4 separate regions of the Homo sapiens genome follow, and all the other regions are linked to region 3. The links come from fine-mapping of genetic effects on gene expression. A gene starts in region 3. Each other region holds a variant in brackets. All regions are shown on one strand. Distances are from middle to middle.

Region 1 (8,000 bases), 28 kb after region 3:
TTCCTCTCAATTCTGTCAGTCATGTTCAGTGACACATCTATGTCTGAGTCTGTGATAAACATATGACATACATAGAAGCAGGAACAAAACACAGTCCATGGCCTCCAGGAGCTCAGTCTAAGATACAGGCATGAATTAATAAGGGAGAAGGAAATTAACACTATATTGAGAGCTCCAAAGTATCTGGTACTGGGCCAGATAAATAGCTTTGTATATTATCATCTGTTAGTGCGTTCTATTACTTTTATTTCTTACAGGAATGCTACCTGTCTTACAGGGTTCTCTAAATAAACACTGTGTTTAAACACTTTACACCAACATAGCTGGCATGCAGTAAAGGACAATACAACTCAGTATTATTTCCCTCATTTTACAGGTAGGAGGCTCAGGTGAGAGAAGCGAGCAGAGTCTGGATTCTAACCTAGCTCTGACTAATTATACCACGACTCCACATATTACCTCCCACTGAGCTCAAACAGGTTGTGTGACTAAGCCTAGGATCTGGCGCAACTCTCCCAGAGTTATTTCCCTTCCCTTTCCTTCATCTAGGGGAAATTACAGACTAGGGCAAATTAGCTTAATACGATGAGTCATTATCTATGTACTAAAGTCAGTACCAGCCCTGCCATGTGATAGTGGAGGTTACTGAATACCTCTAGGGGGCAGCAAGGCCAGGATCCCAGGAGTGGAGGAGTAGCAGAGCCAGCCAAATGTCAGTAACCTATCATTGTCCTTCCCTCCCTCAGTCTTCCATTATGAAAGGCATCATGCTCCCTGCTCCTCACCCACACACACTTATTCATACAAAGGGGAAATCTAAGTTACTGTGATAGGATTCATGTAACTTCAACTCTGACCCCACTAAACATCCGTGCTATTTCAAGAGGTTTTCAAAAATAAGAGTCTCTGGCCGGGCGTAGTGGCTCTCTCCTGTAATCCCAGCACTTTGGGAGGCCAAGGCGGCTGGATCACTTGAGGTCAGGAGTTCGAGACCAGCCTGGCCAACATGGCGAAACCCCATCTCTACTAAAAATACAAAAATTAGCTGGGTGTGGTGGAAAGCATCTGTAATCCCAGCTACCCAGCTACTCAGGAGGCTGAGACAGGAGAATCACTTGAACCCAGGAGGCAGAGGTTGCAGTGAGCCGAGATCATATCATTGCACTCCAGCCTGGGTGACAGAGCGAGACTCTACCTCAAAAACAAAACAAAACAAAAAAAAAAGACTCTCAAAAGGCCTCAAATTTGAGTCTTTGCATTGTCTTTTTTTGTTGTTGTTGAGATGGAGTCTCACTCTGTCGCCAGGCTGGAGTGCAGTCGTGCGATCTCGGCTCACTGCAACCTCCACCTCCTGGGTTTAAACGATTCTCCCGCCTCAGCCTCCTGAGCAGTGGGGATTACAGGCACCCACCACCATGCCCGGCTAATTTTTGTATTTTTAGTAGAGACAGGGTTTCACCATGTTGGCCAGGATGGTCTCAATCTTCTGACCTCATGCTCCACCCACCTCAGCCTCCCAAAGTGCTGGGATTACAGGCGTGAGCCACCGCATCCGGCCAGCATTGTCTCTTATTAGCTGTGTCACCTGGGTAAGTCATTCTTCAGTTATATAAAAAAAGTTCTGGCTGGGCACAGTGGCTCATGCCTGTAATCCCAGCACTTCAGAGGGCCAAGGCAGGCAGATTGCTTGAGCCCAGGAGTTCTAGACCATCCTGGGCAACATGGCAAAACCTCAACTCTACAAGAAATACAAAATTAGCCAGGCATGATGGTGTACACCTGTAGTCCCAGCTGACTGTGAGGCTGAGATGGGTAGATCACTTGAGCCCAGGAGGTCAAAGCCACAGTAGGCCAGTGATTGCATCACTGCGCTCCAGCCTGGGCGACACAGCAAGACCCTGTCTCAAAACGGGCCAGGTGTGGTAGCTCATGCCTGTAATCCCATGCTTTGGGAGGCCAAGGAGGTGGGTGGGAATCACTTGAGGCCAAGAGTTCAAGACCAGCATGGGAAACATAGCAAGCCCTCGTCTCTACAAAAAATTTTTAAAAATTAGCCGGGCATCATGGTGCATACCTGTACTCCTAGCTCAGCCTAGTTGGAAGGCTGAAGCAGGAGGATCACTTGAACCCAGGAGTTCAAGGATGCCGTGAGCTATGATCGTGCCACTGCACTCCAGCCTGGGTGACAGAGCAAGATCGTCCAAAAAAATAAAAAATAAAAATAAATAAATCACAGAATACCGGGGTTTGCAGGGGACTTGTTCAAAGTCACATCGCAAGTCAGAGGTAGGCATGTGTTCCAGGGAGAGGAAATCAGAGTTAGTAATTCAGACTCAACTCTGAAATGCTTGAGGGGTTCATGTTCCACTTCTAAGTGGCGGCCCAGGCACTACTGTACTACCACTTCCATTCCCTGCTGAGGATTCGCAGGTTCTTTATCTATGGGCGGCCCCAAAAGCTGCCAAGGCTCCTAATGCATAAGTAACACATTGGAATGGGAGACAAAGTATAACAAAAGATCCGTGTTTGAGGTCAGCTGATACTTGTGATTTTTTTTTTTTTTTTTTTTTGAGATGAAGTCTCACTCTGTCGCCTAGGCTGGAATGCAGTGCTGAGAACTCGGCTCAGTGCAACCTCCTCCTCCCAGGTTCAAGCGATTCTCCTGCCTTAGCCTCCCGAGTAGCTGGGATTACAGGCGCACGCCACCATGCCCGGCTAATTTTTTTTTTTTTTCAGTAGAGACAGGGTTTCACGATATTGGCCAGGCTGGTCTTGAACTCCTGACCACGTGATCTTCCTGCCTCGGCCTCCCAAAGTGCTGGGATTACAGGCATGAGCCACTACACCCGGCCAATACTTGTGATCGTAAGGCACATTATTCTAAGCTTGGCTTATCTTTCAAATGGGCAAAATGGATATCACACCAACTGTTCAATTTATCTCAAGGGGTTATGAAAAACTGATATAAAAACGCGGCCAGGCATGGTGGCTCATGCCTGTAATCCTAGCACTTTGGGAGGCCGAGGTGGGTGAATCATGAGGTCGGGAGTTCAAGACCAGACTGGCCAACATGGTGAAACTCCATCTCTAAATACAAAAAATTAGCTGGGCGTGGTAGTGGGCACCTGTAATCCCAGCTACTCAGGAGGCTGAGGCAGGAGAATTGCTTGAACCCGCGAGGCGGAGGTTGCAGTGAGCTGAGATTGCGCCACTGCACTCTAGCCTAGGCAACAGAGCAAGACTCCATCTCAAAAAAAAAAAAAAAAAAAAAATGCTTGCCAGCTAAAGTTCAAAATCAGCAGAAGTGTTGCTTCTTACCAGAAGGTATGGGGCTTCAACTGTGCTACTTTTCGTGACACATGATTAAAAAGTCATGGAACATTCAAAAACGTAAACAGAAACATCAGGACATAGGCATGAATGTTGCCACACAAAGTTCAACAATGCCACCTTTGTTTAAGGAGTACCTGGAACACCTCTCTTGGAACTGTCTGTAAAACTAGTTTAAAAGGCACTTAAGATCAACAATCATGTACTATCTAGTTCCACCCTGTTTCTTTGACTAAACAGTGTTATTACTTGACAATGACTTTGGGCCATTTCTAAAATACAACTTCCCCATGAAAATGTGTGATGAAAAAGGTACATCTAAAACTGCAAAAGGAATTCCCAAATGATTCTAATGATTCTCCACACCATCCCTGTGGTCAATTTAACAGATTAACTTCTCTCATGAAGCCTTCTTTGGACAAAGATCACACTATTTTGATGTAGAAATTGTTTTCAAACTAGGGACCCTACCTGACATTTACATGGATTAAAAGAAGAAACAGGTTGCTATAATTACTAACCCTAAACTCCTCTGATTTGAAAGTTCTGGTGTATAGCCCAAAGGGGACAGACAAGAAACTTAAGAGTCTGGAAGGGGTAACAGGGGCTTACGTACTTCTGTTTCTTTGATCCTTTATGAGTTTTCTCTGTTTTTTCAGCTGACCTTTCCCTTGAGTGACTGGAGTCTCGGGAATCCACTGATTCTCTCGATTTACCTCGTTTAAGATCTCTCTCCTTATGTTTTTTACGACGTTCAATATCAAGGCGGAGATCAACAGGATCATCTTTGTATTTTCCCTCAGCCTATCAAAAGATAAGCCAAAATTAAGGTTTCTGGGATTCAGAGCTGTCAACTCAACCATCCCACAAACTGTGGTTTTTACTCCAATGGAGGGGTGCAGAGGAAGCACTGGGAAATGTGAGGCATCTCACCCAAGCTTGGAAGGGATGCAGGATGTCCCACAGAAGTTACTCCATAAGGATCCCTCACAGAACCCACGCCAGTCCTCCAAAACAATGATGCTGGCCTTCTGAAAATGCTATGCATTGATCTCACTTTGTTTCCTTTCTGGCCCAGTAATGACTCTGGCTAGTTTAGAAGTTGAGAAGGCTGGCCAGGTGCAGTGGCTCACGCCTGTAATCCCAGAACTTTGGGAGGCCGAGGCAGGCGGATCACTTGAGCTCAGGAGTTCAAGACCAGCATGGGCAACAACCAAAACCCTGTTCTCTACTAAAAATACAAAAATCAGCC[G/A]AGCAAGGTGGCGTGTGCCTGTAATCCCAGCTACTAGGGAGGCTAAAGCAGAAGAATCGCTTAAACCCAGGAGGTGGAGGTTGCAGTGAGCTGAGATCGCACCACTGCACTCCATCCTGGCCAATAGAACAAGACTATCTCTCAAAAAAAAAAAAAAAAAAAAAAAAAAAAAAAAAAAAAGTTGAGAAGGCTAAAATTAGCTCTGGAAAAGTAGGTGGTTGGGCTGGCTCAGGATTAGCCACCACTAAGAGTAGAAAAGCTCACCTTCCCCTACCTATACTGTAGTATCCACCCATGGCTTATCCTCCACTTGGAATTATCTCTGAGTACTGAGTCCAAAGAGAGACAATGGAAGACTTAAGCAGCCTTCAAAACCCTGAGTTATACTGACAAATTTCTCTAGAAAGGGAATATCAAAAACTATGGGGAATTCATAAACTGGTATTATCAGGTGAAAGGAAAGGGAAAGGAAGGGGAAGGGGGAAAGAAACCAAAGAAACAGGGAGAAAGGGAGGAAGGGAGGGAAGAAGGAAGGGAGGGAGGAAGGAAGGGAGGAGGGAAGGAAGGAAGGAAGGAAGGAAGGAAGGAAAAAACTTCTCTGCTGGCTTCCTAAGCAGTTCAGCTATGAAGGTATGTTTTGCAGCAGCAACAGCACACCTGCTCAGACCACTGCAGCAAAGGCTTTCAACAATTCTTGGGAAACTCGGTGGGGCAAAGGTGCATGGTAGTTCCGGGACATCCCACACTAGGATTTGTCTCATGGAGGTAACTCAGGGAGGAAGAAATGAGCAGTTCATTCTGCATTAATAGTTTACATATGTGAACTACTAAACTTTTAAAAAAAAAAGTTTAACAGCAGGAGTGGCAGAAACTAGGTTTATTCTTTTTTTTTTTTTTCCTTTTTTTTTTTTGAGACAGAGTTTCACTCTTGTTGCCCTGGCTGGAGTACAATGGCGGGATCTTGGCTCATTGCAACCTCCACCTCCCAGGTTCAAGTGATTCTCCTGCCTCAGCCTCCCAGGTAGCTGGGATTACAGGCATGCACTACCACACCCGGCTAATTTTGTATTTTTAGTAGAGACGGGGTTTCACCATGTAGGTCAGGCTGGTGTCAAACTCTCGACCTCAGGTGATCCACCCACCTCGGCCTCCCAAAGTGCTGGGATTACAGGCTTGAGCCACCTTGCCCGGCCGTTTATTGTTTTATCACTTAATTTGTTTCCTAACAGAGGGAACTGGGCCTCTGCATCCTCCAAAGAGCAAAAAAAGACAAAAAGACAAATGCAACACTGCTCCCAGGGGTAACACCTCCAATGAGTTGGCTTTTTTGGGGCATGGAGGACGAGATCTCTTCTGATGTTTTAAAGAAAACCTTGGGTTTTACATGGCTAGTACAAAGCTGGAGAAGGGGTACTCGGAGGAGGAAAGACGGGTGGGAGAGAAGAGAGACTGCCCAGAAGCGCCTCTCATCACATTCAACCAACAAAACAAGTATTTTTTAGAAAAGGTTTCAGCAGCATTGGAATAACCATCTGTTATTTTAAATTTCAACTGTATATGTGAATGAAGATCAATAAATACTAAGATTTTTTTAAAGCCCAATTTAGTTATTTCACAGTAACAGATTGTATACAAGCTTTAACCTCTTAACAGTGTTTACGTGCACATCATTGCAAATGTAGCTGGGCCATCAAAGTAATCTTTAGCTTTAAAGTAACAGTAATTGACAGATGATAGATATGGTACAATGTTAGGAAAAAAAACTGGACCAGCTGTTTAAAAACAGTCTACTTAAGTTAAGACATGAATATTTCACTCTTCTCTGACATGCATGTCTTTCTGAAATCATGGTTGGAAATAGTGCATGTATACAGTTGATTTGATAATACTTACAAGCAGAAAAATATCACAAAAAGTTTCTTCTCTCATCATGGGCACTTGTTCCAAAACTCCTCTCTTTTTTTTCTCAAGCTCACCTCAATAGACTTTGGGGTCATTTACCATATTCTAACCACTTCACAAAGGTTGTTGATACATTTAATAAAAATTAACCCTTTGTAGTTCATTTTTAGAATTATGCCCATCCTTAAAAGAAAAACACAAACTTAAGTAGAGAGTAATTTAAACAAACACATTTCTGTCAAGTTCATGCCCAACGCACTCATTTTGTTGGAATTACTGATCAAATCAACAGTTCACCTTGTAGCCAGGTTCCCGGGGACTTTTCATTTCATCATGAGCCAAACCATGTTTTCTGAATGTACTGGGGGAAATGTCTATTCTCCTAAAATTGAAAATACAAAACGATATAGTATTCCATTGTGTGAATATGATACTGGTAATATTCTAGCTCTTAAGTTGGCTAATAGATTCACAGGCATTATTTTTCCTTACGTTTCATGACTTATGTATCTATTACTTTTACTCTTATATACTTATACTCTCCCATAGGCAGACACACACACACACACACACACACACACACACACACACAGTCCCAGGTTCCCACAGTGTAACAGAAGTTAGAGGTTTTTGTTCTCTCCTGGTTTTGCTACACACAGAAAGATGGACTCACCCATAGCCTCAAAGATAAGGCCAACTTTGTTTCTAGTCCCTATCCACTGAACTGACTCCCACAACCAAATGTAATAGTCTTTAAACCTGCTGGGCTTTAAAATTCTGTGAGATAATCCTACAAGCTCCCGCCTCTAGCCCCCAGGCAAATTCTTCCAGAAGAATCCAACTACCCATGATTAAACTACCATGAAATATTAATATACAGGCTTACCTAAAGAAACTAGCATTAGGCTGGGCGCAGTGGCTCACGCCTGTAATCCCAGCACTTTGGGAGGCTGAGGCGGGCAGGTCACCTGAGGTTGAGAGTTCAAGACCAGACTGGCCAACATGGTGAAACCCTGTCTCTACTAAAAATACAAAAATCAGCTGGGCATGGTGGCACACGTTTGTAATCCCAGGTACTTGGGAGGCTAAGGCATGAGAATTGCTTGAACCTGGGAGGCAGAGGTTGCAGTGAGCCGAGATTGCATCACTGCACTCCAGCCTGGGTGGCAGAGCAACACTCCATCTCAAAAAAAAAAAAAAAAAAGACAAGAAAAGAAACTAGCATTTACTCTACCTACAGAAACTCACAGTAATTTCAGGCAACATTTGCCAGCTTCCAAGAATATAGGAGTTAATCTATGTCAAGAGAGCTGTTTTCCTCAGGCCCAATGTGAGAGACTGTTGTCCCAAAGCATGTCCTGTACACTCTCAAATATAAATGCCTATAGCTCTCTTAGAGTCTGAAGGATGTTACTGTAAATTTTGTATTAAAGGTGCATTAGCAGCAGAATTTAACAAGGTGAGTTTAATGTCTGATACAAAGTCTTTTATTACAACCTCCAGTATAAGGCCATGG
Region 2 (8,105 bases), 64 kb after region 3:
GACTAGAATCCACGTTCCATTCTGGGCTGTCCATATGTCCATAATACAGTGTTACTTCAAGAGGGGCACTAAGGTGGGTGTTAGGTGAGGAAATACACTAAAGCAAATTATCATTCTAAAATGCTCAGTCCTAAATGGACAAGTCACTTTGTAATACTGGGCCAGGTTCGGCAGTAAGTAGAGGCTTTGGTAGCAAAAACGAACTGGGTTCAATCTTGGCTCTGCCACCCATTCCTGGACAAAATACTTAACTCTCTCCATCTTCCAAATGTGACCTACACCTTACAGGACTGCCAGGAGAATTAAGGAAGCACATACACAGTGCCTGACACACAAGTGAGTAAACACCTTAAACTATGTTTAGCCACAGAACCAGAGTGGTTGGAGGGAGAGATTTAGGAACTTCCCTGGGAGTAAACAGATTTCATAACTGATTCTATTTTCTTGCTATTTATTAAAACCTGCCTACAAGAAGGAGAATGGCGTGAACCTGGGAGGCAGAGCTTGCAATGAGCTGAGACTGCGCCACTGCACTCCAGCCTGGGCGACAGAGCGAGACTCCGTCTCAAAAAAACAAACAAACAAAAACCAAATCTGCCTACAAGTAATAAGTGATCAGGTATCTTCCTACACAGCAATAAAGCATTTTATATCTTTCCTGGCTAAATTAGCATGTGTCACACTGAAGAGGTGTGCTAGAAGGAAAGGTCGTATTATCAAGAAAGACCTAAGTCAAAAGGTCACATTCACCTTTGGAAGACAAATCTCTTCGATGCTGGATGTTAGCAGGGAAAATCAACAGCAAGCTAAAAGTTCACTTAGAACTTTTTCATCAAAACATCCCCAGTGTAAGCAACTTGAGATACTCCTCTGAGAATTCAGTCAATGCGTGTCTATTAAGCTCAGGATCATCTATGCAATTAATCATTGGGGAAACAAAATGAATAGCACAGCTGGCGGCTTAAAAAAAATATTCAATTCACCCCAGAGGCTCCTCTCCTATGTCTCTCAGGGACAGTAACAGTAATTTTAGCCCCCATTTTAAATGAGTATGTTACCATTGGGGAATATTTTCTTCTCAATTCTTAAGAGAAATTCTCAGCTTTCCTAACTTAATAAAGACACTATAATCTATATTAACTAACGACCTGTGGTTTCCTTCCAGCTCTCATTATGATAAATCTTTTCTAAGCTAAATTAAGCAGCCAATCATGACACTTAACTATTTTTAAAAATGGAATTATTGTCCAGGTGCAGTAGCTCACCCCTGAAATCCTAGCACTTTGAGAGGCCAAGGCGGGTGGATCACTTGAGCCCAAGAGTTTGAGACCAGCCTGGGCAACATAGTAAGACCTCATCTCTACAAGAAATACAAAAATTAACTGGGCATGGTGGCTTGTGCCTATAGTCTCAGCTACTCAGGAGGCCGAAGCAGGAGGATCACCTGAGCCTGGGAGGTCAAGGTTGCAGTGAGCCGTGATCAAGCCACTGCACTCCAGCCTTGGCGACAGAGCCTCCAAAAAATAAATAAAATAGGCCGGGTGCAGTGGCTCACGCCTGTAATCCCAACACTTTGGGAGGCCAAGGTGGGCAGATCACGAGGTCAGGAGATAGAGACCATCCTGGCTAACACAGTGAAACCCCATCTCTACTGAAAATACAAAAAAAAAAAAAAAAAAAAAAAATTAGCCGGCCCTGGTGGCGGGCGCCTGTAGTCCCAGCTACTTGGCAGGCTGAGGCAGGAGAATGGCGTGACCCCGGGAGGTGGACTTGTAGTGAGCCGAGATCGCGCCACTGCACTCCAGCCTGGGAGACAGAGCAAGACTTCATCTCAAAAAAAATAATAATAATAAATAAATAAAATAAAATAAAATAAAATAGAAGCATTACTATTAAAGCCTTGGGCTAAACACTGATAAATACTGTAATCACCTACAGAACTTTAAAAAAATATCCATCCATCAAGATTCTAATTGAAGAAACTGAGAATGGGATTCAGAGCCAGTGGGCCATGGACATTCTTTGCAGATCACCCCCATACTGATATACAGACATCCACTGTTTACAAAGAGTTCTACATAAAGCCTGGATAGAACTACAGTAGGAGAAATAAGCTGTTTGACAGCTTTTACAGACAATGGTCTTTTTAAGATCAAATCATCTTCCCAAAGATGATCACATGGAGGTTTAGAGGAGGAAAAAAACGTGTGTGTTAGATTTATTTTGTTTTATATTACTATATCACTGTTTTGTATTATGTTTGGAATGTGGCAGGCCATCATTCATTAACTTAATCATACTAGTTTATCTGTTCCTTCAGAAGTATGAACTCTTAGAACTGTACCATCCAATACATATGTAGACTCAGCACGTGAAATGTGGCTGATCTGAACTGAGATGAGCTACAGGTATAAAATAAACATGGGATTTCTAAGGCTTGGTATAAACAGAAAGTAAAATATCTCACCATTCTTTATATCACTTATATGTTGAAATAAGAATGTACTGGATATATTGAATTATATAAAACATATCGTTCAAATTTATTTCATCTGTTTTTTTAAATGTGACTACTAAAATGTATTAAATGACATGTGGCTCACATTCTTCTTTTGAGCAGCACTGTCCTTGAGAACAACGATGATTATATCTTCAAATTGAGAACCCAATCTAGTACTGTCCAGTCACTTTTAGATTTGTCATTTATACTTGCCATTTCTAGTCTCTACCCACTAAGCCTTTCCTGTTGCAGTAACTCTCCACATGAGTTTGGGGGAGCAGCGGAGATGTCTTAAATACAAACACAACTCTACGTAAGAGACCAAAAATGATTTAAAGATCTACTACCATTTTGGATCATACTAATCATCTAAGTTTACAAAAGAAATCAAGGAGAACCCGACCGGTTGCTTCCACTTAAAATTATTTAAAATACTACTCGAAGCTATCTAGAGACACCAACTCCACCTCAGGTAGATCCACACACTCAACCAGAACTTAGTCCAGATACATGTGATCAGTGTAGTTCGTCTCTCTGGGATTTCCTTTTGGAATAGCATATGAACTGCTTACAGAAATGGCTCTAATTTTTTATTTTATTTTTACTTTTTTTGAGATGGAGTCTCGCTCTGTCGCCCAGCCTGGATTGCAATGGCGCGATCTCAGCTCACTGCAAGCTCCGCCTCCCGGGTTCACGCCATTCTCCTGCCTCAGTCTCCCGAGTAGCTGGGACTACAGGCGCCCACCACCGTGCCTGGCTAGTTTTTTTGTATTTTTAGTAGAGATGGGGTTTCACCGTGTTAGCCAGGATGGTCTCGATCTCCTGACCTCGTGATCTGCCCGCCTTGGCCTCCCAAAGTGCTGGGATTACAGGCGTGAGCCACCGCACCCGGCCTAATTTTTGTATTTTTAGTAGAGATGGGGTTTTACCATGTTGGCCAGCTGGTCTCGAACTCCTGGCCTCAAGTGATCTGCCCTCCTCGGCCTCCCAAAGTGCTTCGCTTACAGGTGTGAGCTACTGCGCTTAGCCCAAGATAAAATTTATAATATAGCCAAAATGCTTAAATGTATTGTGGAAGATTTACACTTATGGTTAGAGTTTAGGGAGAAATTACTGATAAAGACATAGAAACTAAGCAAAATAGACAAAAAGATTATTAAAAACAGAAAACAAATAGTTGTACAAAAAAGGAAAAGTAAACACAACATGTAAAATGACTGGGCTGTGAATAAGCGCTACGTAATCATAATAATGTTGTAAACCATGATACTGCCATGACTAAAATTATATTATAACCAGAGTGCCTTTTTTTTTTTTTTTTTTGAGACGTAGTCTTGCTCTGTAGCCCAGGCTAGAGTGCAGTGGTGCGATCTCAGCTCACTGCAAGCTCCGCCTCCTGGGTTCACACCATTCTCCTGCCTCAGCCTCCAGAGTAGCTGGGACTACAGGCGCCCACCACCACGCCCGGCTAATTTTTTGTATTTTTAGTAGAGATGGGGTTTCACCGTGTTAGCCAGGATGGTCTCGATCTCCTGACCTTGTGATCCGCCCGCCTCGGCCTCCCAAAGTGCTGAGATTACAGGCGTGAGCCAGGTGCCTGGCCCCAGAGTGACAATTAATGTTGGCATGTGAGGTGGTCAGGTAAGCCTACCAAAAACGACCACTATTTAAGGAGTGAAGTTAATAAATAATAACAAACACTGTAAAGCAAAAGAGGCTTATTATTTAGAGAGATATACCAAAAGGAACTGGAGAGTTGAAAATGACTGCTTCTAAGGGGCTGGGAAGGGGAGTGGGGAAGGACTGCTGTTTTTCATAAAGAGCCCTAGGGAGCTGATGGTCTGGTATGTCTACTATAGTGTTTTTGCAAATATATACAGCTTTTGTTTGTTTTTGTTTTTCTGAGACAAGGTCTTGCTCTGTTGCCCAGGCTGGAGGGCAGTGGCAAGATCTCGGCTCACTGTAACCTCTACCTTCTGCATTGAAGTGATTCTCCTGCCTCAGCCTCCCAAGTAGCTGGGATTACAGGTGCCTGCCACCATGCCTGGCTAATTTTTGTATTTTTAGTAGAGACGGGGTTTCACTATGTTGGCCAGGCTGGTCTCGAACTCTTGACCTCAAGTGATCACCTGCCTTGGCCTCCCAAAGTGCTGGGATTACAGTCAGGAGCCACCACGCCTGGCCCCCAATTTTAATTAAAACAAGTATATATCCAAGTAACATAAGCATGAAAAGGGACTGCTTCCCAAAATATTAATGATTACAGATGTCAAGTTTACCGACAGCCTTTTTCAAACGAATACTGTTTCATAAGAACCCAGAACTTCCATTAACGAATCATCTGGATAATCAATTCTTTTTCTTTTCTTTTTTTTTTTTTTGAGACAGGGTCTTGCTGTCACCCAGGCTGGAGTGCAGTGGCATGAACATGGTTCACTGCAGTCTCCAACTACTGAGCTCAAGCTATCCTTCTGCCTCAGCCTCCCAAGTAGCTGGGACCACAGATGTGTATCACCAG[G/T]CCTGGTTAAATTTTTTTATTTTTTGTAGAGACAGGATCTCACCATGTTGCATAGGCTGGTCTCGAAATAATCAATTCTTAACGTAAGATTGGTTTTACAAATTAGTGAAGTTATTAGTTTCTTTTACCACCATGCTTTTACCTTATTTGAACAATGATTCAACTCGTACTGGATCCCAGACACTACCCCAAAAGAACACCCGCAGCACCACTGGCTTCTTCACTTTACAAGTCAGCATACACTTCTGAAATGAGAGAAAATAAGTAGTGATAAAATGGCTACCCAAATGCAGATTCTGTTACTGATGCTCAAAATCTATAAACACAAACCCTACTTTAGCCCTCAGCTTTACTCCAAAAGGACCCAAGCTTTTCTCTCAAAGTATGAGATGGTCTGCCTCTGTCTGACAGGTTTTCATTCATCTAACCTCCTACAGTATGGAAAGCAAAAGCCTTCCTTACTGTAACCTGATACTTTCACTGGCAATATTTCAGGTGCTAAGGTTTTCATTATGCAAGACTAATTCACAAGCTCCACAAAACTCAACCTGGTGAACCTGACAAAAATCAGATGTTTAAAATAAGAAAGCAATGAACAGAAGTATATTAAAATGAATTTAACAAATGCATTTCAAGGTAAAGTAACTCTCCGTACCTACCCATAAAAGCACAAAAATTCCCTTCTGCTCCAGTTGTCTATTCCCAGATCTATGAACATGGTCATACATCAAAGCTATGTCCAGCGTTTTCCAAAACAAACAGGAAAAACAAGTTCCAAGACCAGCAAGCTCATGTAGGTAATTAGATGTCCTCACTCCTGCCTTATCAAAACTTTGTTGTTATTCTTATTACAGGGGCAGTGGCTCACGCCTATAATCCCAGCACTTTGGGAGGCCAAGGCGGGCGGATCACGAGGTCAGGAGATCGAGATCATCCTGGCTAATATGGTGGAATCCCGTCTCTAGTAAAAATACAAAAACAAAATTAGCCAGGCGTGGCAGCAGGCACCTGTAGTCTCAGCTACTCAGGAGGCTGAGGTGGGAGAGTGGCGTGAACCCAGGAGGTGGAGCTTGCGGTGAGCCGAGATCGCGCCACTGTACTCCAGCCTGGGGGACAGAGTGAGACTTCGCCTCAAGAAAAAAAAAAATTACTAACAGGATAATACTGTTTTATCCAGATGAGGCTTAGTATTCAGATCCTTTACCAAATAACAATGTCGGTATGTGTTTCTTTATTAATGTAAGTACAAATATAGCACTTTAAAAAACTCACTCAAAATACTTTTTCATGTCTTCTCGCTATGTATTCTTCTAATTCAGCCTAGGTTACATCAGCCAAAACTTCTTCCCCTGATTCCTCACTCCAGAGGCACAGAGGGCTCACATCAGTCAGCTCTGCCTAGCTAGTGAGGGAAATCCCATGTCTGCTACAGGACTGCAAACTGCTCTTATGCTGTAACATGTTGAATTTAAAAAACAACCTATTCCAAGCCGGGCGTGGTGGCTCATGCCTGTAATCCCAGCACTTTGGGAGGCCGAGGCGGGCGGATCACGAGGTCCAGAGTTCAAGACCAGCCTGGACAACATGGTGAAACCATGTCTCTACTAAAAATACAAAAAGTAGCCGGGCATGGTGGCACATGGCTGTAATCCCAGCTATTCGGGAGGCTGAGGCAGGAGAATCCCTTGAACTCGGGAAGCAGAGGTTGCAGTGTGCCGAGATCGTGCCATTGCACTCCAGCGTGGGTGACAGAGCGAGACTCTGTCTCAAAACAACAAAAAAACACAATCTATTCCAATACATCCATCTTTCCCTCTAATTCTAACCAGATGGCAAAAGTACACACACATAAATCTCCCATTTTATTACTCCATCATATTTCCTATTAATTAACCTCTTCTTGGATATTGGCAAGAATTTTATCATTCCAACAAGTCTTCAATTCCCCATTGTTGCGATGAGTGAATAAGCAAATCTGAGGCTCTGGCCTTTAGTTACTCTGTGACAGCGAAGAGACACCTGAAACCCTGAGTCACCCCCTGCCACCACAGTTGCCCTCCTCCTGCCTAGCCTGTCCTGCATGTCATCTGGCCAGCCACAGGCATACTTGTCAGCCTCTATCTCCTGAACCTCCTTTGGCCAAACAGCAGTGTATTAGCAAGGAGACTCCACAATAGACCCTCTTCCCTTCTACACATTACTAATTGTCCACTTATTCAACAAATAATTTATTAAGTACTGACTACATGCCAGGCACTATTCTAAACACTGGAGGTTCAATAATTTAAAAGTCCCTTCATGCCTGGAACTGACATTCTAGTGAGCAGATGAGGGCACCTGGAGGAGTAAAAGTTATACAATTTTATATCACGCATTAAGGGAAGGCCTCTCTCATGAGACAGCTGAGCAGAGACGGAAGAAAAAGAGTATACTGGGCCTTATCTGAGGAAACAGCAAATGCAAAGACCCTGGGGAGGAAACATGCCTGACTGTCTGAGGAAGAGACAAAAATAAGAATGTCTGCAATGTTGGCCAAGCGCGGTGGCTCACACCTGTAATCCCACCACTTTGGGAGGCCGAGGCGGGCAGATCACCTGAGGTCGGGAGTTCAAGACCAGCCTGACCAACATGGAGAAACCCCGTCTTTACTAAAAACACAAAAAATTAGCCTGGCGAGGTGGCTGGTGCCTGTAATCCCAGCTACTCAGGAGGCTGAGGCAGGAGAATCACTTGAACCTGGGAGGCAGAGGTTGTGGTGAGCCGAGATCGCACCACTGCACTCCAGCCTGGACAACAATAGCGAAACTCTTGTCTCAAAAAAAAAGAATGTCTGCAATGCAAACGGTTACCAATGAGCTGTTGGTAGATCAGGTCAGAAACACAGCTGAATGGACAGGGCCTTGCAATCAAAGTAAGGACTTTGGTTTTCCTCTGGGTAATGAGGGCAGCCACTGGAGTGTTTAGAGCATAAAATAGGAGCATAATTATGTTTCAAAATACCACAAACTGCAATGATACATGCTCGCTGCTGCGTGGAGAACAGATTTTAATGGGTCACAAATAGAAGAAATTAGTAGATAATGCCCA
Region 3 (8,142 bases):
CAAGCGATCCTCCCACCTTAGCCTCCTGAGTAGCAGGAACTATAGGTGTGTGCTACCGTGTCCAGCTAATTTTTGTAGTTTTCTGTAGAAATGGGGTTTCGCCATGTTGCCCAGGCTGGTCTCAAACTCCTGGACTTCAGTGATCTGCACACCTCGGCCTCCCAAAGTGCTGGGATTACAGACGTGAGCCACCACACTGGGCCTATGATTGTCCATTTAGCAAATTTTTGCCAGTACCCTCTTTCCAGCAGCTGTCCCAGGTGCTGGGGTCATGGGGACACTCAAAGGACTCAGGAGGCCCCCGGTGAGTCTCCCTCTTCCCTCCATCCAAGACCTATCCCCGTGGTAGGGTGAGGCCCATGTCAACGGCAGAATAGCCAGGGCAAGCCTTCAGTTTGGCCACTGGGGCCGGGAGCAGAGCTGTGCTTGGGTTTGCACTGGGTCCTGAATATGCCAGCACTCACAAGTCCCCTCCCATAGGCTCTGGATCTCTCGGCCCCCCAACCTTCCATCAAGGCCTGTCCTTCCTGTGTTTCATCTTAGCAGTACTCTCCGTGCTTTCCAAGGTGACAAATCTCTAGTCTCACAGGCAGATAGGAGGGCAGAGAAGCAGTCAACAAGCAGGCAGGTGAGCAGACAGCAGATAAGTCCTGGGCAGATAGGCAGCGAGGAGGTAGGGAGGAGATGGGCAGGTGGATAGTTGGGATGAGGGCCAGAACAGCAGGTGACACACGTGCAGAGATCCGAAGCGGGTGGCTGGGCTGACCCACGGACAGGCTGGTGGGCTGGGGAGCAGCAGGCAGTCAAGCAGCTAGGCAGGGGGTGGGGAGGGCATGTGGACCATGGGGACAGCCACATTGGCCAAAGGTTTCAGGGACCTTCCCCAGGGCCTCCAGGAGCAGTGCTTCTCAAAACCCTCCAGGGCAAGGCTGCCGCTTCTCCCACCTGGCCTGGCTTGGCCACGGCAAGCCCCTGGAGAAGACAGCACTCTGGTTAATGTGCGTCCCTCTCTCTGAAGCAACCAGCAACCATCATCTCAACCCTCATCCTGCTCCACTAGGGCTGAGTCATACCTGACCCACTCCAAACACATATGTCACATACCAACCCAGACACAAACATACTTTTGCCTGCAGGCAGAGATACAGAGAGCTGCGTAGCACAGAGGTGCATGGAAACAGCTTGACAGAAACAGATCCAAAATTTTAGACTGCACATAGAGGAGCACACATGTGGACTCTCACAGACACAGGTCTGTGCCACATGAACTGAGGCACTGAGGCACACAACACACGTAGTCATACAAGCACACTGTAGCACACACCGATATTCCCGTGGATGGCAGGCATTAAACATGCTCATGCACTCCCAGCAATGCTGCACATAAATAAGCTACCTGTGCAAACAGTCACTGACATACACCCCTTGAAGAAACAGGAATACAACCCACAGAAACTCAATATTGCTGATGGTCTTCAAATCTCGGCCAAGGCAGTGGGCAAATTCTGGCCTCATCTTCACCTCTCAGCCCAATCACACATGGCTGATCACATCCCTGTTCTGGCCTGGTTCTCCTTGCTGACTTCACCTCCAGGAGACCCCTCAATGGGCTCGAGCTTCAGACCCTTCTCTCTCTGCCCCCTTACCCCAGATGTTCGGTCTCATCCACTTCTGGGGTGGTAAATCCATCTTATGTGGTAAGGACTCTCAAATATCATTTTCAGCCAGATTCCTGGGGGTTCTACTTGCATTGCCAACACCTGCACCTGGATATCTAATGGACATTTCAAGTCTAACCTATCTACAGTGAAACTGACTACCCCCAAACCTGCTTCCCCACATGGGCTTTCCTCAGGTGCCCCAGCCCAGTATGAAAGTGTTCTAAACTCCTCTCTCCCTCACATTCAAGTCCAGTGCAGGAACTCCCTTCAGAACACCACCTGAGTCTGAGCCCTCTCGCCTCTCCACCGGCCCCGCCCTCACTGGCTTGGACAGCTGCCAGCCTACTCACCACCCTCCCTGCTCCCCTTCTTGCCCACAGTGGCCCACCCTACACTGAGCCACCACAGGGATCTTTCCAAAATGTGTCACAGGGCCATGACACTCCCCTGCTCAACGCTCCAGGAGCTCCCCACCACACTTACATTAAAAACCAAGCTCCTGGCCGGGCACGGTGGCTCACACCTGTAATTCCAGCACTTTGGAGGCCAAGGTGGGCAGATCACCTGAGGTCAGAAGTTCGAGACCAGCCTGACCAACATGGAGAAACCCCATCTCTACTAAAAATACAAAATTAGCAGGGTGTGGTTGTGCATGCCTGTAATCCCAGCTACTCGGGAGGCTGAGGCAGGAGAATCACTCGAATCCGGGAGACAGAGGTTGCAGTGAGCAGAGATCGCGCCTTTGTACTCCAGCCTGGGCAACAAGAGTGAAACTCCGTCTCAAAAAAAAAAAAAAGAAAGAAAGAAAGAAAAAGCTCATCAACAAGGCCATCGAGTCCCTGCACGGGCAGCCCCTGCCACTCTCCCCTGCACCCACACACCATCTGCGTGGCTTTCTTCCCTTGGAGGGAGGTATCCCAAGCATGTTCTTACTCCTGCCCAGACACTCTCCCCAGATCCTGGCACAGCTGCCTCCTCCTTAGGATTCAGGTCTCACTGTGGATGTCCCTGTGAGAGCCACTCCCAGGTGTTGTCCATCGCATTACCCTATCCTGTCATGCCCCCCAGCACTTAGAAGCATCTGAGATTATCTTCTATTGTTTCTCCAATTTAGTGTCAGCTCCATGAGGGCAAGGATTTGTGTCTGTTCTGTTTATTGTTAAATCCCCATTAAAACTATTCCTCAGGGCTGGGCGCGGTGGCTCACGCCCGTAATCCCTGCACTTTGGGAGGTCAAGGCAGGTGGATCACGAGGTCAGCAGATCGAGACCATCCTGGCTAACATGGTGAAACCCGGTCTCTACTAAAAATACAAAAAATTAGCCAGGCGTGGTGGCAGGCGCCTGTAGTCCCAGCTACTTGGGAAGCTGAGGCAGGAGAATGGCATGAACCTGGGAGGCAGAGCTTGCAGTGAGCCGAGATCGCGCCACTGCACTCCAGCCTGGGTGACAGAGCGAGACTCCGTCTCAAAAACAAAAACAAACAACAAAAAAAAAACTGTCCCTCAGTATTCTCAGGGGATTGGCTCCATGACCTCCCTCCCATAGACACCAAAATCCAAGGATCCTCAAGTCCTTGATGTAAAATAAATTGGTTCAGTATTTGCATTTAACCTATACACATCCTCCTGTATACTTTAAATCATCTCTTGATTACTTATAATATCTAATATAATGTAACCGCTATGAAAATACACTATTGGCCGGCATGATGGCTCACACTTGTAATCCCAGCACTTTGGGAGGCTGAGGTGGGTGGATCACTTGAGCCCAGGAGTTCAAGACCAGCCTGGGCAACATGGCAAAACCCCATCTCTACAAAAATTAGCCAGGCATGGTGGTGCACGCCTGTGGTCCCTCCCAGCTACTTGGGAGAATGAGATGGGAGGCTCACTTGAGCCCAGGAGGTAAAGGTTGTGAATGAGCTGAGATAGCACCTCTGTACTCCAGCCTGGGTGACAGAGTGAGACCCTGTCTCAAAGAAAAAAAATTAAATATATCTATTGTTTAGGAAATAATGATAAGAAAAAAAGTCTGTACATGTTCAGCACAGATGCAATTTTGGTTTTGAATATTTTTGATGCAAAGTTGGTTAAACCCACAGATGCTGTGGACTAGACTAGGAAGTGCTAGGCATACACAGTATTTGTTGACTAGTGGCTGCACAGATTTATATACAGACATACCCGCCCCCACAACAATACTCAAATACATCACATTAATAGACAAATATACAGATGTGGGCAAAAATACCTGCCCGCACATTCACAGAACACACTAAACAGTCACAAAGACACCCAGGAGTCCCTTTTCCATCCCCATAGGAGTCAGTCCTAGTCCTCCCCCATCTAGATCTGCCCTCTACTTGAACCCAGTCTCGGGACTGGGGGAGTAGGGGTCTGCAGCCCGGACAGGGAGAGGGTCGCTGGCCCACAGGCCTCAGGCAGCGCCTTCAGCTATGTCTGCAATTTCCTCTCCCCCTTTCCTCCTCCTCTCTAAGGCTCCCGCCAAGGCGGCCTCCCCCTCATTCTAGCTCCAGCAAGGGAGGGGAGGTCCATGATGGGGGGGCCCCGTGGAGACAGGGCAGAAGGAAGCCCCCCGCCACACACACTGATCACACACCACATTGCATGCACAAGCCCAGGTGGGAAATGCGTGTGTGAGCACAGGCAGGTTTAGCCTTGGGGTGGGGGACGGGATGGGGTGGGATCTGCCACAAGCCGCCACAAGCTGCTTGGTGCACAAGAGCGCAGGAGCTCGCAGGCACAGAGGCCCCACGCTGGGGTCTGCGAGACTGCTGGCCGGGCCCTGGCTCAAAGCTGGAGTCCAACAATCATTAACCCTGCGTGACTAGACCAGAGCTCGGCCAGGGGACACATTCAAGCCTGGGCCCTGGAAGGAGGGGTGGACAGTCCCCTCCCTTCCAGTCCAGCATGGGTCTGGGGAAGAGAAGCAGCTTTGCCTGGAAGGGGCCTCCTAGGAGGGGGAGCGGTGGTTTCTAGCTCAGGCTTTAGGATCAGAGAGCAGCAGATTCAAATCCTGACGGTTTTGGTAAAGTCAATTCAATCTCTCCAAGACTCCGTTTATTTGATCTGCGAAGTGGGGATAATGGTATCACGTCGCAGGGTTGTCAGGCGGAGTAAGTGAAAGAACCTGTCCAAGGTTTAGCCCTTGGCCCGCACGCAGGCAGAGCTCCAGCCTCTCTGTTGTTGCTGTTAGTGGCCTGGGGGCGGGTCCCTGCCGCGGCCTCCCCGGCGGTTTCCTGTGGGGGACGGACGGCCCGCGGGCCGGGCTCTCCCTCCTCCCGGCTGCCCGCTCCTCTCCCCTTCCTCTCCCAGCCCTTTTCCTCCCCGCCTCCCCGCCCGCCCCGCCCCGCCCCGTCCCTCCTCTTTCCTCGGAGGAAACTTTCCGCCGGCTGGTCCCTCGGTCCGTGTCCCGCCCGTGCTGCCGCGGCCTGGGAGCCCAGCGGGGCCGGAGGGGCGGCGGGACCCGAGCGGGCGGGGGCGGCCGGACCCAGTGTATGCGGCCGCGGGACGCGCTGGGGCCGGGCAGCCGGGAAGCGGGGCGCTGACGGTGAGTGGGCCTGGCCCCGGGCCGGTGGGTCCCCGCGGGGCGGCCGGGCGAGGAGAGAGGCAGCTTCCCTTCCCGGAGCCCGCCTGGGGCGTGGAGGCTCAGCGTCCCTATCCTCCATCCCGCCCCGGGACGGCGGAACCGGGCCTCAGCTGGGGACCTCACCAGGGGGCGGGGCCTCCCGCGGTCCCCGGCGCTGCTCCCAGGACTGGAGGGGCGTCCGCGCCCGGGAGAGGGGTTCCCCCCGACAGGGCCCCGGGCCGCCACGAAGTTAGGGAAGCGCTCTCTCCAGGGTGGAACCTGGGCCCGCGGCTCCCGGGAGAGGAGCTGCCCGCGGAAGGGGTCGGGGTGGGCTCCAGGCTGGGAGAAGGATCTGACTTTGCTGACCTCGCAGGCTGGTAGGGGAGCTGCCCCCCAGAGCAGCATGGATGCCCCGCGAAGGGACATGGAGTTGCTCAGCAACAGCCTGGCTGCCTACGCGCACATCCGCGGTGAGGGCGGGCGCCGGAAGACTGGGGGCCTGAACCCTTCCCTGACCACCATCCCCTTCCCTCCCCAGCGCCTTGTCCGTCCCCTCCGCCCCGCTCCCCGCCCTCTTGCCCGCTGGCGGTTCCCTAATGCCCTTCGAGTAGGGGTTACAGGCCTCGCCCCCACACCTAGAACCTGGGGTCTTTCGGAAGTGGGACAACCCCCACCCGTCCGGGCCTCTCCGTGACCCCCGCCCTGTGCCCCGCAGCCAACCCCGAGAGCTTCGGCCTCTACTTCGTGCTGGGCGTCTGCTTCGGCCTGCTGCTCACCCTCTGCCTGCTCGTCATCAGCATCTCGTGGGCGCCCCGCCCGCGGCCCCGGGGCCCGGCTCAGCGCCGGGACCCCCGCAGCAGCACCCTGGAGCCCGAGGACGACGACGAGGACGAGGAGGACACGGTGACTCGGCTGGGCCCCGACGACACGCTGCCGGGCCCCGAGCTGTCCGCAGAGCCGGACGGGCCCCTCAACGTCAACGTCTTCACGTCGGCGGAGGAGCTGGAGCGGGCGCAGCGGCTGGAGGAGCGCGAACGGATCCTGCGGGAGATCTGGCGCACCGGGCAGCCGGACCTGCTGGGCACAGGCACGCTGGGGCCCAGCCCCACGGCCACGGGCACCCTGGGCCGCATGCACTATTACTGATGGGCCCCGGCTCCCGCTGCAAGGCGCTCGGGGTACCGGACCTGCACATGAGCTCAGAGCTACCCCACACCTTCGGACTGCCTCGGCCCCCACAGCTCCCAGGTGCTACTGGGCGTGGACCGCCACCCCCTGAGAGGCTCCCTTCCCCAGTCCTGCCAGAAGACCCCGGGGGCGGGGAGGGGGCAGCATGCAGGGTCCCCACTCCCTCTCTGGGGTCGATGAAGAGGTGAAGTGACCAAATGAAAGAAAGCTGCATTCTCAGTGACTCAGTCTCTCCCTCTGTTACTCCTGCCCCCAGCGACCCCCAGGCTCCTGCCACGCAGGGGCCCCAGGACTGAGGCCCAGCTTGACTCCCTTACCCTAGCTGCACCACCCCCACCCACCAACCCGACGATACAGCACACCTGCCCGCATTCACTTCACAGCCAGCAGAAAAGCAGAAGCCCACAGGCCTGCACCCAGCCTCACACACAGAGCAAGCGCGCGCGCATTCCTTATTCAAAACGCATTCCTTACCGGCAAACGCCTGGACACACGTCGCCCTGTCCCCACAGTGCCCTGGGTTCATACACTGCAATGACACACACACCAGGCCTCAGGACCCTGACCTCGAGGCTAAGGTGCTGCTAGCCCCGGTGTAAGCATGCGTGCTTGGGCTGGACGGTGGACTTCACGTCTGCGCCGAGGTGCGTTCAAGCGAGAGGGCAGGAGTCCCTCTGAGCGGACAGGGAGGCCAGCTGGGAGGGGTCCGAGCTGGCGAGAAGGCCCGCCCGGCTCCTCCCCGGCGCACAGCTGGATTCCGGAATCTAGGCCGGGCGTCAAGAGCCCGACCCCGCCTGGGCCCCTCCTGCCCGCCATTTCTCCAGTGCGCGGCTGGAGTCCGAAGGAGACACCCTCCCCCGCCCCTCACCATCCGGTGGATAAAAATAGCCGCGCGCAGGCCTTGGGAACGGTAATGGGAGCCACATGTTGGCCAGATGTGCCTGGGAGGGACCGTCAGGAATGCGGAGGCCCAGGCCCTGCCCCCGCGCAGGCCCCGCCCCCAGCGACCAGACCGGCGTGGCGCCGTGCTAGGCAGAGTTTACTTTCTCGCGTTTCCCAAAGTCGTGTGCAAGGACGTGGGTGGCCCCAGCCAGGTCAGGCCGCGGTCCCTTCCCAGGCCCACCCTCAGTAGGTCTGCGTCTGCGTGTGGATGACGCGCGGGGTCTGGGACTTCTGGGTCCCCTGCATCACCTGGACCTGGTCGGGAGTGAGGTGGAGACTTTGTCAGGGGGCCACTCGCCGTCAGCCCCCTCCCGCCGGGACCCGCGCCTCACCTCCAGCCGCCGGCGCTGCTCCTTCTCGCTCTTCAGCTCCTCCCAGATGTCGGTCAGCTTCCTCCTGCGGGCCGAGGCGGAGGTGAGGGGCTGGGCAGGTGAGGGCTGGAGGTGAGGGGCTGCGCAGGTGAGGGCTAGGGGGAACCCTACCTTCCACAACCCCCGCCACTGCCCACTCACTCCAGCTGCACCTCCATCAGCTCCAGCGCCCTCCTTAGAGACTCCACCTCGCCCCTCAGCGACGTTACATCAACTCCTTCATTCTTGTTTTCCGTGTAGTTTTGCGGGACCAGCGAGGGGAGCGCGAGCGTCTCTTGGGAGTCTGGAGGCGGCTTGATAGGACGTGTTTTTTGGGCAAAGGCTCTTTCTATGGGGGGCACCTCCTCTTTTGGAGCCACTTCCTCTTTAGGGGGCAATTCCTCTTTCAGG
Region 4 (8,142 bases), 510 kb after region 3:
AAGTGGAGGTTTCAGTGAGCCAAGATCGCACCACTGCACTCCAACCTGGGTGACAGAGTGAGACTCCATCTTAAAAAAAAATACATAAATAAAAAATTAAACTTTCTTAATCTCAGTTTCTCCCCGTCTGAACATTCTATTTCTGTGCTCCCTTTTGTATCAAAATCCCTTGAAGGAGTTGTCTGTAATTCCTCTTCCCCTTTCTCCCTTGAACTTTCTCAAGTAAGGCTTTTTCTCTACCAAACTACTGTTATCGACGTCCTCCAGTGGGCTCCATATAGCTAAATTCAATGCTCCTTGAACATTAGATAATCCATCCTTCCAACTTAAAACATCTTCTTCCTTTGCCTCCAGAGCACCACTCCCTTGGTTTTCTCCTATCCCAGTGGTCTCTCCATGCCAATCTTCCTGCTGATACTTCCTCATCGCCTTTAATCTTTCAGTTAAATCTTTAAATATTGGAGTGCTTCAAGACCCAGTGTAGGAGCCTTATTTTCTCCACACACACTCACTTTCAACATAATCTCATCCAGTCTCATGGCTTTATCATCAATAAGCTCATGATTCTCAAATGTTTGTCTCCAGCCTCGAACTGTTCCCTGAATCCAACCTTAATACTGTATTCAACCTCCTTTTTTTTTTTTTTTTAAGACTCAGAGTCTCACTCTGTCACCTGGGCTGGAGTGCAGTGGTGCTATTTTTTTTTTTTTTTTTTGAGACAGAGTCTCACTCTGTCGAATAGGCTGACGTGCAGTAGCACGATCTCAGCTCACTGCAACCTCCGTCTCCCGGGTTCAAGTGATTCTTCTGCCTCAGCCTCCCGAGTAGCTGGGACTACAGGCACACACCACCATACCATGACCAGCTAATTTTTGTATCATTAGTAGAGACAGGGTTTCACCATATTAGCCAGGCTGGTCTCAATCTTCTGACCTCGTGATCCACCCACCTCGGCCTCCCAAAGTGCTCACATCCAAAGATGTGAGCCACCGCGCGCGGCCTTTTGTTTTTTTTAATATAGACAGAGTCTAGCCATGTTGCCTAAGCTTGCTGCAAACTCCTGGCTTCAAGCAATCCTCCCACCTCAGCCTCCTAAAGTGCTGGGATTACAGGTACGAGCTACCACAGCCGATCTCCACTAGCATGTCTAATAGTCATCTCAACCCTGATGTCCAAAACGCACAGGTCTCCTGATCTGCTACTCCCTGCTTCTGCTTCTCTTGCAGTTTTCCCCATCTGATAAATGACAACTCCTTTTTTTCCAGTAGCTCAGGACATAAACCCTGGAATTGATCATGACTAATTTCTTTCTTTCACACCACATGTTCAATCCATCAGTAAATCTTATTGACAGTAGTATGAAAATATTTGCAGGATCTGACCACTTCTCATCACTATCAATTATACTACTCAAGTCTAAACCACCATTACTTTTCACCTGAATCATTCCAAGTGCCTCTTAATTAATTTCCATGCTTTTCACCCTTACCTGCTAGGGTCTAATTTCAGCACAGCATCCAGGGCAATCCATTAAAAATATAAGTTTGTCATGTCTTAGATTTATTTAGTCACGTTGTGGGTTTAGTATTTAAAACTCACCTAACCAGAATAAATGACAAAGTGTTATGAATGCCTACAAGTTCTGCATGATAGAGGCCTTCTGAAATTTCTCCAACCTCATCTCCTATCACTCTCCCCCACTCACTCACTCCAGCAATCCAGAATTATCTGCTGTTTGTTTCTTTCCTTCCTTCCTTCCTTCCTTCCTTCCTTCCTTCCTTTCTTCCTTTCTTTCTTTCTTTCTTTCTTTCTTTCTTTCTTTTTGAGACAGAGTCTCCCTCTGTTGCCCAGGCTGGAATGCAGCGGCATGATCTCCACTCACTGCAACCTCCGTCTCCCAGATTCAAGTGATTCTCCTGCCTCAGCCTCCCAAGTAGCTGGGATTACAGGCACGTGCCACTATGCCCAGCTAATTTTTGTATTTTTAATAGAGACAGGGTTTCACCATGTTGGCCAGGCTGGTCTCGAACTCCTGACCTCAAGTGATCTGCCCGCCTCAGCCTCCCAAAGTGCTGGGATTACAGGCATGAGCCATCACGCCCGGCCTGCTGTTTCTTGAACTCACCAAGCTTCTGACTTTGCCTGGGACACTCTTCATGCAGATATCCCTCACCTCCTCTAGGTCAAATATCACTTTTCAGTGAGACTTTCTCTAGGTATTTGCATACGTATATACATATACATACGTGTGTGTATATCTACATATGCATGTATATGTATATATAAACATATATATTCATTCATATATAAATCTCAGTGCTCATCCTATCCCCATTTCCTATCTTCCATCTCTATTTTCTTTTTCTTTATTGCATTTATTACCAACTAATAAAATACATGTTTTGTTTGCTTCTTCATTTATTGTTGGTCTTCCCCATTAGAATATACGCTCCTCAAAGGTAGAAACTTTTGCCTGTTTTGTTCATGGTGAATTCCCAGAGCACAGGGCAATACCTGGCACAAAATAAACATTCAATAAAATATTCGTTGGATGGATCAATGTTATCCATTACCACCACTTCTACTACTATTGATCTCAGTTACACAATAGCCAATAATGGGTTTACAAGAGAATGAACTACACCAGAAAGCCAAATTTTGATCCATAATGAGAAAAATATCAAGCGGCACAAAATATTTAACTTGACAGCAAAGAGCAATCTTAAAAAAGCAAGAATCTTAATATCAAATATTGCCTGAATGTCACTGCATAGAAACAGAGAAAACAAAAGTGGATGTATACTCAGCACACTGTAAGAATATTTGCTACAGGGCTGTCTTCACACCAGGTAAATTCCTGCTATACAGACCACAATACTTACATCATCTCATCAGGACCACTCTTAGATAATGCTAGAAATAACTAGAGCTTCTCTCTGTGCTTAGTTTTCTCAGTACTCCAAGATGACTTTTCTTTCTTTTCCCCCAAGAAAAAATCTGCAAGTAATCTTCTGTATTGATATATATATATATATACATCTTTCTCATGTCCAAAACCAACATATAATAATAAAAATTGAATTTCCAGATAGTTCTATTTCCCACAGACACTAATGTCTTCACCTATTTTAGTAAATTTTTGCTACCCTTGGTCAATGAAAGAGCGACCTTTCTTTTCCATAATTAAATAAGTGTTTACTGATTGACTAATAATATATCCAGCACTTTGCTAGAGCCTACAGAGGATAACCAAGCATGAGACAGCAAACCTGCTATTAAGAAACCTATCATCTTAGAGAATAACAAAGCCTACATGTTGGATGAATTTAGAGAACAATATGATACATAAATAAATTATATGCACTTAAATATACAGAAATCCACTGTTTCTAATCCTTACCTGTTGACTCTACGAGGCCGTTTTTCAGGCTTAATATCCACATCATAGTGATACACATCTATTTTAGGAATCTGAACCTGAAAATGATTGGCTAACAGTCGAATTGGTTTTCCAACAGTTCCAAGGCCAGGACGACGAGGTGGCTGAAACAGGCTAGCCGGAGGTCCTAAAGAGATTGAAAGACATTTGCTGTGCTATTTTTTTTTTCTTTTTCTTTCTTTCTTTCTTTTTTTTTTTTTTTTTTTTTTT[G/TG]AGACAGAGTTTCGCTCTTTCACCCAGGGTGGAGTGCAGTGGCTTGATCTTGGCTCACTGCAACCTCTGCCTTCCAGTTCCAAGCGATTCTCCTGCCTCAGCCTCTCCAGTAGCTGGGATTACAGGAGCCTGCCACCAGGCCTGGCTAATTTTTGTATTTTTAGTAGAGACAGGGTTTCACCACATTGGCCAGGCTGGTCTAGAACTCCTGACCTCGTGATCCACCTGCCTCAGCCTCCCAAAGTGCTGGGATTACAGGCGTGAGCCACCGCACCTGGCCTGCTGTGCTATTTATTCTTCTTCTTCTTGATGATGATGATGATGGCTACAGTTATTGAGATCTTATTATTCACTGTATGTACTCTAATATAAAGAATCTGGGGTGTCTTTCGACCTAAGGTTCTCTAGATTTCTAAATATTTTGCCAAGTTGCTATTATTTTTAACATAAGGACATCAAAATTAGAATGATGAATTCCTCTCAAGTATAGGCTACAGTATAAAATCTTGCATGAGCATTAGTAAAGCTCTATAGCTAGACTTACAAAATTATATGCATTTTAAAAACTATCTCTAAACTCTGGAGCCACCATCCCCAGAGTTGGAAATGACCTACTAATCTCTCACAAATTAGCCTGCATCATTATAAATTGTACATATAGGAGAAGATTAAACCACAGCTCTATTTATCAATTTATTTGCTAATTTCGATAGTGAAACAATACCAATAAAGCTAGACCTTCTCGTTTATAACTTGATATTTTTAGAACCTGGACAATCTGAGATTTCTTGCTCATAAGATCTAGTTTATTCCACAGACATTTATTCATTTATTCAGTTATAACATGCCTAACCTGTACTATGGACTCAGAATGAAGACAGAGCCCCTTCTTTCAAAGAATGTACAGTCTAGACCAGTGGTTCTCAACCCGGGGCAAATTTGTTCCCCAGGAAACATTTGGCAAATATATGGACACATTTTTGGTTGTCACAACCTGAGAAGTGCTGCTGGCATCTAGTGGAAAGGACCCAGGATACAGCTACGCATTCTACAATGCATAAGATAGCCCCCCACAACAAAGAATTACCCAGTCCAAAATATCAATAGTGCTGAGAAAGAGGTTGAGAAACCCTGATGTAGATAGAGTAATATTTCCAAACTATTTCAAAAAAGAAAAGATTCTATAAGTTAAAGAAACCTTGCATACTCTCTCCCCTCTTAAAATTTCAATGCATATTATCATATTAAATTATCTAAAAAGTCATGTAATAAATAAACCTAGTTAACTTTACCTCATCATTTAGCTAACTGTTTTTTTTCCCCACAGAACTCTCTCTCTCTCTCTAAGATTTGAACATCTATTAATACTCAGCAGAAAAAGATCTTGTGGAGCACAGTCTGGGAGACACTCGTTTAGAGAAAATCTTACTCCTTTTTGATGACAATATCAAGTGGATACTGGCCTAAAAAATGAACATCTTTTCTGCTATGAATAGGCACTGAGCAAAGTGGGCTGTGGTTACAATGGAAAGTTACAACAGGTTCTGTTACTGCAATGGCATTTCACTGAGAACAAAGACTTCACTAAGGAGAGAAAACTTGGAAGCAAGAAGTTGTTCTGGGCCAGGCGTGGTGGCTCACACCTGTAATCCCAGCACTTCGGGAGGCCAAGGCAGGCAGATGACCTGAGGTCAGCAGTTTGAGACCAGCCTGGCCAGCATAGTAAAACCCCGTCTCTACTAAAAATACAAAAATTAGCCGGGCACGGTGGTGGATGCCTGTAATCCCAGCTACTCAGGAGGCTGAGGCAGGAGAATCGCTTGAACCCGGGAGGCAGAGGTTGCAGTGAGCTGAGATTGTGTCACTGCACTCCAGCCTGGGCGACAGAGGGAGACTCAGTCTAAAACAACAACAAAAAGAAGTTGTTCTGTTCCAACATCACTTAGGAAAATTAGAGCAAATACTTTATGATATTTATGGTTACAGATCACCATATTCTAACACTTAAAGTATTAAAAATCATTTTACATATTAATTATTCATTTTCCCACTATATTCTACTTATCCTTCAGAATTAGGTTTAGATGTAACCTCCTTGGAAAGCCTTTCCTGATTCTCCCAGACTAGAGGATCCGTCCTCTGTGTTCAAAAGACTCTCTCTATAGGGGAACCCATAGAGCAAGTATAAGAAACCACTTGTTAAGTTACTCTGTCTCCTTCACTAGATTGCAAACTCTTATAAACACCGCATGTTCTCACTCATAGATGGGAATTGAACAATGAGAACACTTGGACACAGGAAGGGGAACATCACACACTGGGGCCTGTTGTGGGGTAGGGGGAGGGGGGAGGGATAGCATTAGGAGATATACCTAATGTAAATGATGAGTTAATGGGTGCAGCACACCAACACGGCACATGTATACATATGTAACAAACCTGCACATTCTGCATATGTATCCTAAAGTATAATAAAAAAAATTTAAAAAAAAGAAATGAACCTCCTATTAATCTTCTCAATATCTAATGCAACAGCCATCATGTTATAAGAATTCAATAAATGTTGAACTGAACAGTATCAATAATCCCAGATAGAATCTAAACACAAAAATCATAATTATCTTTCTTTCTCTCTCCTTCCTTCCCTTCTGTCCTTCCTTCTTTCCTTCCTTCCTTCCTTTTTTCTCTCTCTCTTCTTTCTCTTTCTCTCTCTTTTTTTTTTTTGAGATGGAGTCTCACACTGTTGCCCAGGCTGGAGGGCAGTGGTGCGATCTCGGCTTACTGCAACCTCCGCCTCCCGGGTTCAAGAGATTCTCCTGCCTCAGCCTCCCAAGTAGCTGGAATTACAGGCACCCGCCACCATGCCCAGCTAATTTTTTGTATTTTTAGTAGAGACGGGGTTTCACTACATTGGCCAGGCTGGTCTCAAACTCCTGACCTTGTGATCCGCCCACCTTGCCCTCCCAAAGTGTCTCTCTTCTTCTTCCTTCTTCCTTCCTTCTTCCTTCTTCCTCTTCCTCTTCTTCTTCTTCTTCTTTTTTTCTTTTTTTGAGCCAGGGTCTTGCTCTGTTGCCCAGGCTGGAGTGCAGTGGGTCAATCATGGCTCACTGCAGCCTCGACCTCCTGGACTCAACTGATCCTCCCACCTCAGCCTCCAGAGTAACTGAGATACCACCCCAGCTAATTTTTGTATTTTTGGTAGAGACGAGGTTTGGGGTTTTGCCATGTTGCCTAGGCTGGTCTTGAACTCCTGGGGTCAAGCAATCTGCCCACCTAGGCCTCCCAAAGTGCTGGGATTACAGTCATGAGCCACCACGCCCAGCTGACAATTATTTTTCAATGAAGCAAAAGCACATAATTTATACTAAAAGTATTCTTTTTTTTTTTTTTGAGATGGAGTCTCGCTCTGTCACCCAGGCTGGAGTGCAGTGGCACAATCTTGGCTCACTGCAAGCTCTGCCTCCCGGGTTCACGCCATTCTCCTGCCTCAGCCTCCCCAGCAGCTGGGACTACAGGCGCATGCTGCCATGCCCGGCTAATTTTTTGTATTTTTAGTAGAGACAGGATTTCACCATCTTAGCCAGGATGGTCTTGATCTCCTGACCTTGTGATCTGCCTGCCTTGGCCTCCCAAAGTGCTGGGATTACAGGCGTGAGCCACTGCGCCCGGCCCACTAAAAGTATTCTTATTGCTTGGAGTTGAGTTCTACTTCTAGTGTACAAGAGGACCTATCAATACAATTGATAAGACAATTACAAACAAGGTAACAAGGTAAGAAGTAAATAGTAAATAATGTGAGAGGTGATAAACATACTGAATTAACCCAATTAAATCATAAAAATAAGTCAACTCTGCATATTTCAAGATACACTTAAGCAATCACTGTATCATTCATAAAGTTGTAAGAGGCCAGGCACAGTGGCTCATGCCTGTAATCCCAGCACTTTGGAAGGCTGAAGCGGGCAGATCACCTGAGGTCAGAAGTTTGAGACCAGCCTGGCAAACATGGCAAAACACCGTCTCTACTAAAAATACAAAAATTAGCTAGGTGTGGTGGTGGGCACCTGTAATCCCAGCTACTCGGGAGACTGAGGCAGGGGAATAGCTTGAACCTGGGAGGTGCAGGTTGCAGTGAGCCGAGATCATGCCACTGCAATCCAGCAAGGGTGACAGAATGAGACTTGTCTTAAAAAAAAAGAAAAAAAATGTTGTAAGAAATATAGCTTTATAATAGAAATTTGAAAACAGAAACTTGGATCAAATGACTTGCTTAAGGACATACGACTTTGAGTTTAAATACTAACTAGAATCCAAATCTCCTAACTCCTAGCCTAGCACTTTTTCTTCCCAATATACTTCATAATCTTGTGATATGTATTATTATCTGAAGTACTTGAATGTCAAAGAGGCAGAGGCAGAAGAATTGAAAGAAAAACGATTAAGAAGTGGCAAAAAGTAAATATTATTTGTATCTCCTTTCCTTGGCAAAGAGA

The links.
Region 1: its variant is fine-mapped to the expression of EVA1B in whole blood (INTERVAL, PIP above 0.99).
Region 2: its variant is fine-mapped to the expression of EVA1B in whole blood (INTERVAL, PIP above 0.99).
Region 4: its variant is fine-mapped to the expression of EVA1B in whole blood (INTERVAL, PIP above 0.99).

The regions. Positions count from the first base shown.
Region 1 is chr1:36,292,717-36,300,716 of GRCh38, reverse strand. It overlaps THRAP3 (thyroid hormone receptor associated protein 3), which reads right to left. Exons shown (of 12, transcript NM_005119.4): 8 at 6,782-6,866; 9 at 3,947-4,134. Among named protein-coding and RNA genes, the nearest start is that of SH3D21, 9.7 kb to the left of the region's middle. The variant G/A (reference allele first, on the strand shown) is at 4,583.
Region 2 is chr1:36,256,540-36,264,644 of GRCh38, reverse strand. It overlaps THRAP3 (thyroid hormone receptor associated protein 3), which reads right to left. Exons shown (of 12, transcript NM_005119.4): 2 at 5,161-5,263. Among named protein-coding and RNA genes, the nearest start is that of THRAP3, 36 kb to the right of the region's middle. RefSeq lists silencers at 3,790-3,946, 6,976-7,035. The variant G/T (reference allele first, on the strand shown) is at 5,019.
Region 3 is chr1:36,320,550-36,328,691 of GRCh38, reverse strand. EVA1B (eva-1 homolog B) reads left to right here and starts at 5,047. Exons shown (of 3, transcript NM_001304762.2): 1 at 5,047-5,233; 2 at 5,625-5,721; 3 at 5,967-6,662. The coding sequence starts at 5,655. The coding sequence ends at 6,397. SH3D21 (SH3 domain containing 21) reads right to left here. Exons shown (of 16, transcript NM_001162530.2): 14 at 7,894-8,142; 15 at 7,714-7,777; 16 at 7,345-7,636. The coding sequence ends at 7,565. RefSeq lists silencers at 4,780-5,009, 5,100-5,459, 5,520-5,569, 5,660-5,849 and enhancers at 4,894-5,778, 6,665-7,549.
Region 4 is chr1:35,812,306-35,820,447 of GRCh38, reverse strand. It overlaps AGO4 (argonaute RISC component 4), which reads right to left. Exons shown (of 18, transcript NM_017629.4): 2 at 3,401-3,566. Among named protein-coding and RNA genes, the nearest start is that of AGO4, 8.4 kb to the right of the region's middle. The variant G/TG (reference allele first, on the strand shown) is at 3,650.